2 separate regions of the Homo sapiens genome follow, and region 2 is linked to region 1. Evidence: fine-mapped expression QTL. A gene starts in region 1. The other region holds a variant in brackets. All regions are shown on one strand. Distances are between the middles of the regions. Region 1 holds the start of CCN3 (cellular communication network factor 3). Region 2 has its middle 32 kb from the start of CCN3.

The links. PIP is the estimated chance that this variant, and not a neighbour inherited with it, causes the effect.
Region 2: its variant is fine-mapped to the expression of CCN3 in whole blood (TOPMed, PIP above 0.99).

What each region holds. Positions count from the first base shown.
Region 1 is chr8:119,413,021-119,418,375 of GRCh38, reverse strand. CCN3 (cellular communication network factor 3) reads right to left here and starts at 1,930. Exons shown (of 5, transcript NM_002514.4): 1 at 1,760-1,930; 2 at 1,407-1,632; 3 at 67-318. The coding sequence starts at 1,843. LOC124902009 (a long non-coding RNA gene) reads left to right here and starts at 2,067. Exons shown (of 2, transcript XR_007061077.1): 1 at 2,067-3,405.
Region 2 is chr8:119,445,950-119,451,328 of GRCh38, reverse strand. No RefSeq gene overlaps it. Among named protein-coding and RNA genes, the nearest start is that of CCN3, 32 kb to the right of the region's middle. The variant A/G (reference allele first, on the strand shown) is at 2,869.

The DNA.
Region 1 (5,355 bases):
TGCAAATTCTTCATGTTTGTATTTACCCTCTACTATGACCAGCCCTAGGTATATTGAGTTTCTCACCTGCAAGGGTAAGGCCTCCCAGTGAATCCTCCTCATCTGGGCCACAGATCCACTTTTCACAGCACTCTCCAGGCACCTCAACTTTTCTTGGAGCTGGGCAGTTAGGCTCAGGCAGTAGCACATCCAGCTGACAGCGGGGCACACAGCCAATCTGCCCATCTCTGCAGGTGCACTGGAATTTGCAGCTTGGCTGAAATTTCTCTCCACTGCGGTAGATGACCCCATCGAACACACAGTTATCTCCCTCTACCGCTAGAATATTGGGGAAGCAAAGTGAAAAGCAAAGAGGAAGAGGAAAAACAAGAACACAATACAGTGAAGAAGCTATGTAAGATTTGGAGGGCATGTTCCAAAACCCAAGTCCTTTTCTAGTTCAGGCGATCTGGTTTCTCATGTATCTACTGTAGAGTGATGTCCTCATGGAGGCCTCTCAGAGCAAGAAGAAACCTTCAAGATCATCTAGTCTTGCCACTCATTTTATGGATGAGGAAAGAGGTGTGCAACTGTGAAGTGATGTCCCCAAGGTCCCCTGGCCATTTTTCCCAATGTTCAGTCATTTTGCGAGAACCTCCTTAGAGTTTCCTACTCCAGCAGCTTAGACTTAAAAAGAGAAAAAGTGTACTTTATGTTTTCCAACAGGTTAGCTGATCAAATTGGGAAGGGCATTAAGATTCCTTGACACTCAAGCATAATAAAATCATCAGTAGCTTAGAGAAAAAAGTAAAAGCCCTCCTGTCCAGAAAGGAAGGGACAATCTTCAACTACAATGTTGTATCATGTGAAAAATTGATCCCCGACTGATTACGTTTTAGAAGCCTGGATTGGCTAGTTGCCTGCATTTTATTTTACTTGCAGCCAGAAAAGGGTTACATAGTTATCCCAGGAGACTAGCAGCTGCTTTGGTTCAAATGGGACAATTACAGGTGTGAAAACAAACCTGCTGGGTTTTCCCCAACTGCAGTTTGGGAAACTGTGAGCGTGTGAGTAAACCCGAGCTTCCATCAGCCCCAAGTGGCCCCCTAGAAGTGTCCGAAGGAAATGACTTCACTGGCCCTTAACTCTGCGTGGCTCCCCCTTTGCTTAGATTCTTGTCTAGGAAGCCAAGTGAGGAATGCCTTTCACCCCCAGGGCAGGTTTCCTTTCTGGCTCTGGCGCTCCCCAAAGCCCCAAGTGCTCCCCAAACCATGCCTGACACACAGTAAGTGCTCTATACATGTCATTTATTGCATTATTATTATTTGCTTATCGCCCTCTGGGAAGGGGAATACAAAAGAGAAGGGAGGAAGCAGCTTCACTTAGCTGCAGGAGAAGAGGTCAAACAGCAGAGGGAGCAGGATTACCCGTGCAGATGCCAGTCTGGTTGCTGGGGTCCGCGCTGCGATCACAGTAGAGGCCACTGCTCTCGTCGCATGGCTCCAGATCTGAGCAGCTCTCGCCACGCTGGCGGGCACACACCAGACAGCATGAGCAGCCGTCCAGCACCGCGCGCACCCCGGGGGCGCAGGTCGGCGGCGTCGCAGGGCACCGGCCCGGGCACTGGGGAGGGCAGCGCTGAGTCGCAGCGACCTGAAGGCAGGCGAGACAAGGAGAAACCACTCAGCTGGGACAGAAGACGCAGTGAGCCCGGTGACCAAATGGGGGCCACCAAGGCGGGCAAAGTAACTTGGGGGCATCTTAAGGGTGTGCCACTTACCTGTCCCAGGAGATGGAGAAGCAGGAAGGTCAGGCAAAGGCACTGCTTTCGGAGACAAAAGCTCGTGCTCTGCACACTCTGCATGCTCAGGCTTTCCCCTCTCGCTTTTACCAAACGAGACTTTCTTCGCTGTAGATTGGCACTGCTCGCCTTCCCCCTGGTCCGGTGCTTGCCGATCACGCCCAGCACAGGTTTTATAGCGCGCTCCTGGGACGCGCACAAGCCGGTTGGCTGCAGTGCAGGGAGGAGGGGGGAGATCGGCTGGGTGGGGAAGTGGAACGAACCCCGGGGTTGCCATGGCAATTGGCTGTGGGTGCTGCTCTCCTTAGGGCGCGGCGCCGGGGCCTGCGTGTGCCTGTGTGTGGCGACTGGCTTTTCCCAGAGGGTGGGGAGGGGCTGGGTGGAGTTCCGAGGCCAGGACCCAGGGCTCGCTCGAGCGCGTGGGAAGGAAACGCCCGTTTCCTCCTGGAAGTTGCTTCGCCTTCTCCCAGGACGAAGACACCACCACTCCCCACCATCCTCCTCCACCCTGACCGTTCCAACCAGGGCTGCAAGCGTGGGGTCCCCTTACGGGATGCCTGCAGTTTGGGGCCATCTGCAGGGGATTGGCAGAAGGCCCAGGGGTTTAGTCATGAGGGAAGCACATGCAAGTTTGTCACCGTTTAGGGCACTCATTGAATGTGTTGAGAGGGAGGGGAGAGAAGCAAGGGAGGAAAGGAGAGAAAGAGGAGAAAGAGAAAAGTGTGTGTGTGTTGGGGGGAGGGGAGTGGCAGGGGGAAGGGAATCTAGAAAAAAAATCGATATGTCAGGAGGTGGGGAATGCTATTGGCCAAATGGCAAAATTCTTTTGACTCTAATCCTTCTAGCTTCACTCAGTCTTAAACCCCAAGGTCCACAGGTTTGTTAGAAATAAAAGTAAAACACACACACACACACACACACACACACACACACACACACATAAAGAAAACATCATAAAATAAAACAAAGAAATCTTGGCAGAAGAAAGCCTTGAAGCACCTGCTGTAGCAGACCAAATGTGAGACGGCACACCTGAGAGTCCAGAAACCTTTGACAGTTTTCTAAGTGGGTTCAGTTCAACCACCATCACCACCATCAAAACCTCCAGCCAGGGAAGAAATGAGGAAGAAACTGGCTTAACTTGGCTGACCCTTCAGCAAATCAAATCCTTCTCTCACCGGGCATCCGCTTTCAAGAAATGATTGCTGGGGCATGCTTGTCATCTCTCATGGGAAAAAGGGAGCAGTTTTACTGCTCCAAAGGTGACATTGTTTGAAGGATTTAGAACAGTTTCCCCCCACACTTCAACACTGGTGCTGCCCCTAGGAGAACTATGCCCAGCTCTTTTGAGGATAGTTGCTTTGGAAAAAAACAAAAAACACTTTTTAAGGAAAATTATACAGGCCTGTGATGTAATTCTAGAGTTTAAAAAGAAACAAATGGCCTCTACCTCATCTGTCCCCAGCATGAAGGAAATCAAAGGCAGCTTGCGGAAGGGGCCAGGTCTGCCTCTGCAACACCCGCAGATGATGAGGTCACCTCAAGCCCCTTCTAGATAATTCTCTCGGCAGCCTGAAACCACTATGACACACTTCCAAGCCTCTAATAGTTCTGCTTTCTTTGAGGTAAATGAGACTGAGTAGTACTCAAACTTAACTAGAGATGAAACAGTTCATTTGCACTCTTGAGTAGGACATTTACCTACTCTTCAAATTGATAGGCTTTGGAGGGTGGAGGGTGGGAGCAGGGAGAAGATCGGGAAAAATAACTAATGGGTACCAGGCTTAATACCTGGGCGATGAAATAATCTGCACAACAAATGTCCATGACACACATTTACCTGTGTAAACAAACCTGCACATTTACCCCTGAACTTGAAATAAAAGTTTAAGAAAAAGATAAAACAAAAAACAAAAAAACTGATAGGTTTTGTAAGCCATTTGGCCTAATGATGCCTCCATCTGGCTGCAGATCGAATCAACCAGCATGTATTTTGTTAAAAATACAGATTCCTGAGCCCCACTCTTGACCCACTCAGTAGGATTCTCTGGTGGTGGCTCTTGGTAGACAGCATTTTAATGTACTTTGAAATGGAGCAACTAGAAGCACTGCTAATGGGGAGGCAAAGAGCATCGGCCAAGTGTTCCAAGCATGAATAGACTCAGATAGAACAAGGAGAAATTGGCAACATGGAGATTGGGCTAGCTCTTCTTGGAAAGAGTGGGGTGGGAGTGGTGACAGGGAAAATGTAACTTTAAGACAAGGATTAACATGTCAAGAAGTCACTGCAAGTGTAAAATTGCTATTCAGTTTTGATTGCAAGAGATGGAAACCAAACTTGAACTAGTTTTTGCGAAAAGAGGACTTTACTGGAAGGATGCTGTGATGTTTCACATAGTGACAGCACAGGAATGGTACAGGGAGTCCTCAGAGGCAATTGGGATCTAGAGAGAGGAGGGCCAACAGGATTACTTCCACATAAGGGAAAAATGATCCTTCCAATCTTCTTACTTTATGACCTTATCACCACAGAAGGAATGTCCCTGTCTCTTAGGCCCAACTTTAAAAGTTCCAGGAATTAAATTGGATGGGTTCACCCTGGACTAATCAATGGGGACAAGGAAGGTGAAGTATGGGGATTAGTTAGAACCTCATGGTTGGAATGGAGAGAAAGAGCAGTTCTCTTGGGAAGAAAGGACTGTTCCTTAAAAAGAAAGCAAGCTTGGTGAGCAAAACAATACACATCCACTCCATCATCTGCTATAAATGCTCTAGGATGAGGATCTTCATCTTAAAACAATTGTAAATTGAAAGTGATACCATCTGATGATAATCATGTCATGTCATGCTTCACTGCCTCCAGGACATAGTCTCTGAAATCCTTCATGCCGGGATAGATGTTATCCGCAGTGCAGGCCTGGGATGCCGAGCTTATCTCTTTTATCTCATAACTCACTGGATAATCATTATAGTCACACCATTTAATGATGGGGATATTGTTGGAGAAATGTGTCCTTGGGTGATTTCATTGTTGTGTGAACATCATAGAGTGTAGTTACACAGATGCGGATGGTGTAGCCTACTACACACCTAGGCTGTATGATATAGTCTATTACTCCTAGGCTACAAACGTACAAACAGTACAGAATATACTGCACTGAATACTGTAGGCAACTGTAATACAATGGTAAGTATTTGTGATTTAAACATATCTAAACTTAGAAAAGGTGCAGTAAAAATATGGTATAAAAGATAAAAAATTGTCCACCTGTGTAGGGCACTTACCGTGAATGGAGCTTGCAGTGGGTGTCAGTGAGTCAGTGGTGGGTGAATGTTAAGGCCTTGGACATAACTGCACACTACTATAGCCTTTATAAACACTACACTTAGGCTAAGCTAAATTTATTCAAAAATTTCCTTTTTCAATGATAAATTAACTTTAGCTTACTGTAACTTTTTTACTGTATAAACTTTTAATTTTTTTAACTTTTCGACCCTTTTGTAATAACACCTACCTTAAAACACAGATACATTGTACAGATGTACAAAAATATTTTCTTTATATCCTTATTCTA
Region 2 (5,379 bases), 33 kb before region 1:
GTTGTAGTGAGAGATCCCTGGTGTTAGCATGGAGCGGGGACTAAAGGAGGGAATCACTAGTATGAGTCTGATGTGCTAACCCAGGAAGAAAATAATGAAGTATCTATTCAGAATGTTGCAGGAGAGATGGAGAACAGGAGACAAGTTTCAGAGAGCCTTTGTAATACACTTGAATGGACATGGAGACCAGCTGAATGTAGGAGAGGGGAAAAAAATGGGAGGTGACAATACTTAGAACTTATCTGCTTGGATAAAAATCCTATTAACATAGAGAAAGAATATAAGGGGAGGAGCAGACCGGAGCAAGGAGGGATAATGATCAAAGATAGTCTATTTTGGGATGAGGTCGGTACGAAACATCTACAACAAACATTGAGAAGGATTTTACTACATAGTTGAAATTATAAGTTTGGAGCTCAACAAAGAGGTCTAAGGTGGTGCTACCTATGTGAGGGACGTTGGATGGCAGTTGAAAACATGGCATTATTGAGAGTGTCCAGGGAGAATACATGGAGCAAGGACTTCCAGAGTATGGATCAGGGAGTCCCAAAGTGATTGATGGATGGGTTTTAGGGGGTCTTTAAATTCCCCCAAATTATATACTCACCTATATGTTATGGGTTTGCGCATTTTAAAGGTAATTTCTTCCATTTTCTCAAAGCAACTATAATCTAAAGAGGACATGACAGGCTGATACAGGGCAAGAAGAGAATGGAGCCAAGGGCAGAATGATAACAGGTTATTCACAGCTGGGCACTATGGCTCACACCTGTAATCCCAGCACTTTGGGAGGTCGAGGTGGGCAGATCACCTGAGGTTCAGGAGTTTGAGACCAGCCTGGCCAACATGGCGAAACCATGGTTTTTTTTTTGTAAAATGTTGTAAAAATACAAAAATTAGCCAGGCATGGTAGTGCATGCCTGTAGTCCCAGATACTTGGGAGGCTGAGGCAGAAGAATTGCGTGAACCTGGGAGGTGGAGGTTGCAGTGAGCCAAGATCTTGCCACTGCACTCCAGCCCGGGTGACAGAGCGAGACTGTCTAGAAAAAAAAAAAAAAAAAGAAAGAAAGAAAGAAAAAAAGGCTTATTTACATTTAAGACACGATGGAAAAGCAAGACTGAATGGAAAGGGGCACAGAGATACTGGGACATTAGGATAGGGTGATGTGAAATTACTTGTTCCAGTAGAAATTTGTGGGAAGGAGGAAGTAGTCAATATGCTAAAATTCTGTAGGAGGTTCAAACAGAAAAGGGGCTTAAAGTTCGCATGCTCCACCACTGCACTCCCCAGACACTGCTGTCTCTTTAAACTAAAAGGATGATGAGCATAGCCAATTCTCTTGGCCAATTTACCAAGGGCCACTCTCTTCACTTCTTCCCTACAGGCAGAGTCTCCTGCTGGGATAGAGTCTTAAAATGCTTTTGTGGTTTTCCTTGTTAGTAGAGATGGCCATGCGATTTAAATCTGATCAAGGGGAACTACAGAAAGACCGCTAGGGAACTTTTTCTCACAGATGAAAAGGAAGAGGGCCGGGGGCCGGGTGTGGTGGCTCACGCCTGTAATCCCAGCACTTTGGTAGGCCAAGGCAGGCAGATCACAAGGTCAGGAGATGGAGACCATCCTGGCCAACATGGTGAAACCCTGTCTTTACTAAAATACAAAAAAATTAGCCAGGCATGGTGTCGCGTGCCTGTAGTCCCAGCTATTCGGGAGGCTGAGGCAGGGGAATCACTTGAACCCGGGAAGCAGAGGTTGCAGTGAGCTGAGATCATGCCACTGCACTCCCGCCTGGTGGCAGAGCAAGACTCTGTCTGAAAAAAAAAGAGAAAAGAAAAGAAAGAGAACAATGATTAAGAAGAGCCTTCTTCCTTGTCTCCTGTTCCTCCTGTTCCTCCTGTCTAAGTAGTTGTGTGAGGATGTGATCCCTGGAGATGCTCTTAAAGACATGAGGACACCATCTGAGGATGAGGGAATCAAAGAAAGGAATGAACTTACATATCTGAAGATATTATTGTGCATTAAACAAATGCTGGAGGCCACGTATCTCCTAGCTTATTATGCGAGTCAATAGAATCCAATTTGTTTGGGGAAATTTTTAGTTGAGTAGTCTGTTTCTTGCAGCCATAAGTAAGATACAACAACAAAGTAGAGAAGGGAGCATAGACTATTCTTTCAAGAAGACTTAGTGTGACTGGAAAGCAAGAAATGTGATGTAGTTTGGGTATTTGTCCCTGCCCAAATCTCATGTTAAATTGTAATCCCCAGTACTGGAGTTGGGCCCTGGTAGGAGGTGTTTGGGTCATGGGGGTAGATCCCTCACAGCTTGGTGCTGTTTTTGTGGTTCTGAGCTAGTTCTTGCAAGATCTGGTCATTTAAAAGTATGTGGCAATTTCCCCCACCCAACCCTACTTGTTCCTCTTTGGCCTCATGACATGCCTGCTTCCTGCTCACCTTCTGCCATTATACTGAAAGTTCCCTGAGGCCTCCTCAGAAGCTGAGTGATGTCAGTGTAGAGTCTGCATAACCATGAGCCAACCAAACCTCTTTTCTTTATGAATTACCCAGTGTCAGGGTTTTCTGTTTTGTTTTGATTTGTTTGTTTGTTTTTGTGACACAGTCCCACTCTATCACCCAGGCTGGAGTGCAGTGGCACCATCTCGGCTCACTGCAACCTCCACCTCCAGGTGCAAGCAATTCTCCTGCCTCAGCTTCCTGAGTAGGTGGGACTACAAGTGTGCATCACCATGTCCGGCTAAATTTTTTTTTTTGTATTTTTAGTAAAGATGGGGCTTTGCCGTGTTGGCCAGGCTGATCTCAAACTGACTTCAAGTGATCCACCCGCCTCAATCTCCCAAAGTGCTGGAATT[A/G]CAGCTGTGAGCCACTGTGCCTGGCCTCCACTGATTTATTTATAGTGTTTTTTGGTACATATCTTTGTATAATTTTCTTAGTGGTTGCTCTGGATATTATAATATATATATGTGACTTATTGCAGTCAATGTATCAATACTTTATTAATTCAAGTAAAGCATGGAAACCTTACTTCCATTTCGGTTCCTTTTGCCTTTTCCACTTTTAAATATCATTGTCTTGAGTATCAGGAGGTATTATAAGTTTTGTTTCAATGATGAAATATTATTTATAGAACTCGTGAGGAGAGGAATAGATCATTGTATGTATTTATATTTCTGTCCCTCTTCTTCCCCTATTAACTGGCAGAAGTGCTAATTTATATGAATGAATTAGCTTATAGTTATGCTTATGTTAAAAATACACTCATAAAGATTTATTGGAATATGTTCCCAGTAACTCTATCCAGGATCAAAAATATTTCTGTTGAGTGGAGTTGGGGTTTTCAGTGTCCTTACCTATAAAATAAAAAGGGGTGGAACTGATATCCATTCTAACTTCTAATCATGTAGTCATTGGGCATATTTCTTCTGTGAAACAGAAATCATAGCTTTGGGGAGAAATTTATAGTAATCTTATAATACTTCAAGCTGTGAGTTCCTCCAAATTTTGACTAAGGGTTTGCTAGTTTCATTGTTCTTTATTTGGGGTAAAGTTATTCTAATGGGGAAATTTTTCCCAACATCATTATTCTCTAGATGAAAGACAGGATGATTTAAAAGTTAAAATAAAACTGAGAGCCAGTCAGCACCACTAATCCTTACTTCCATACCTCTCTTCTCTTTTCATGGCTATTTTCTCCCTTTTGCTACCTGATAGTGGGAGTGTATGAGAAGAAACTGATCTGTCATTCATTCCAAATCTTTTCAATCCAATGGGAAAATTCTGATAACTAGAGCTTTAATAGTTACTTGGTCATTCTTACCTTCTTTGGGATAACTACAATTTCAAATGAAACCCTAAATTCATACAAAGTGTCTCCTTTCCAGTTTTATTTTATAGTTAATTTTATACCCCAGCCATCTTTAGTAAATTCCAGGATTTCCCTTTCTCTCCTTCTCCCGGGTGATGGGGCATCGGGGTCTTGACCTCCAACCAGTATAATCTACCAGGTAGGGGGCATTTCCTAGTAGTTTCCATTTCCAAATTCTCTGAGAATTTCTTCCAATAGGAGCCTCACATTGTTCTGAGTTACTTAGTAACAAAAGCAACTGATAAGTGTACTATCTACTACAGAGCTATTCAAGTTGAAATGGTTATTTCTATGTTACGCAAATTTCACCTCAATTTAAGAAAAAAAAGCAGCAGCTCATGACTTTCCCTTTTAATCCTTCCTTTCTCTGAGCAGAAATAGTGTTAGTTGAACCAGATGAAAAACTTAAAGCCAGCCAGGCATGGTGACTCATGCCTGTTATCCCAGCACTTTGGGAGGCTGAAGTGGGTGGATCACGGGTGGTCAGGAGTTCAAGACCAGCCTGGTCAACGTGGTGAAACCCCGTCTCTACTGAAAATACAAAAATTAGCCAGGCGTGGTGGCACTCACCTGTAATCCCGGCTACTCGAGAGGCTGAGGCAGGAGAATAGCTTGAACCCAGGAGGCAGAGGTTGCAGTGAACCGAGATCGCACCATTGCACTCCAGCCTGGGCAACAGAGTGAGACTCCATCCCCCTGCGCCGCCCCCCCACCAAAAAAAAAAAGAACTTAAAGCTGCTTCTCAGAAACTGCACATGTAATTTACATTCATATTTCATTGGCCAAAGAAAGTTACATGACCACATCTGACTTCAGTAGGGCGGGAATATGAAATCCTCACATTGGATGAGGAAGTGAATATTTTGAAAAAGAAAAAAATATATATACACTCTACACACATGGACTCTAGCCTCAAGGAGCTAATACAAGAGACAGATATTAAACAAATAAATAATGTATAATTCTAATTTATGATAAGTGCTATAGAGTAAGGGAATGGTATGCATAAGGTAGAGGCCTATTTAATTAGAATGGCCAGACCAATCTTTTCTGAGGAGTTAGTAATTAAGCCAAGTCCCAGTGGGTGATAGGAGTCAGCCGTGTGATGTTAGAAGGCAACAGCAGAGACAGAAGCACCTGGAAAGACTCTGAGAACTTGGGATGCTCGTGTACATGAAGGACACTGTTGTAACTTGGGTTAGATGGTTCAAGGAAAGTGGTCTGAGAGTAGGGACAGGCTGGTTAATGCCAGGCCTTGTAAGCCATAAGTGTAAGTAGGGTAGGTTAAACTGCTGTTAACAATTAGACGTCAAAATAAAGACTCAAACACAAAAGGATTCTATTTCTCATTCAAGTTCATATCCAAAGTGTCTGGTAGTTGGGAAGCTCCCTCTAATACATTGATTGAGAAACCTATGGTCCTGCAATCATCATTTGGCTTTGCCATTTCCTGGATCTAGTCACATTTTTGCACTCTGCCAATGAAAGGAGAACTAGA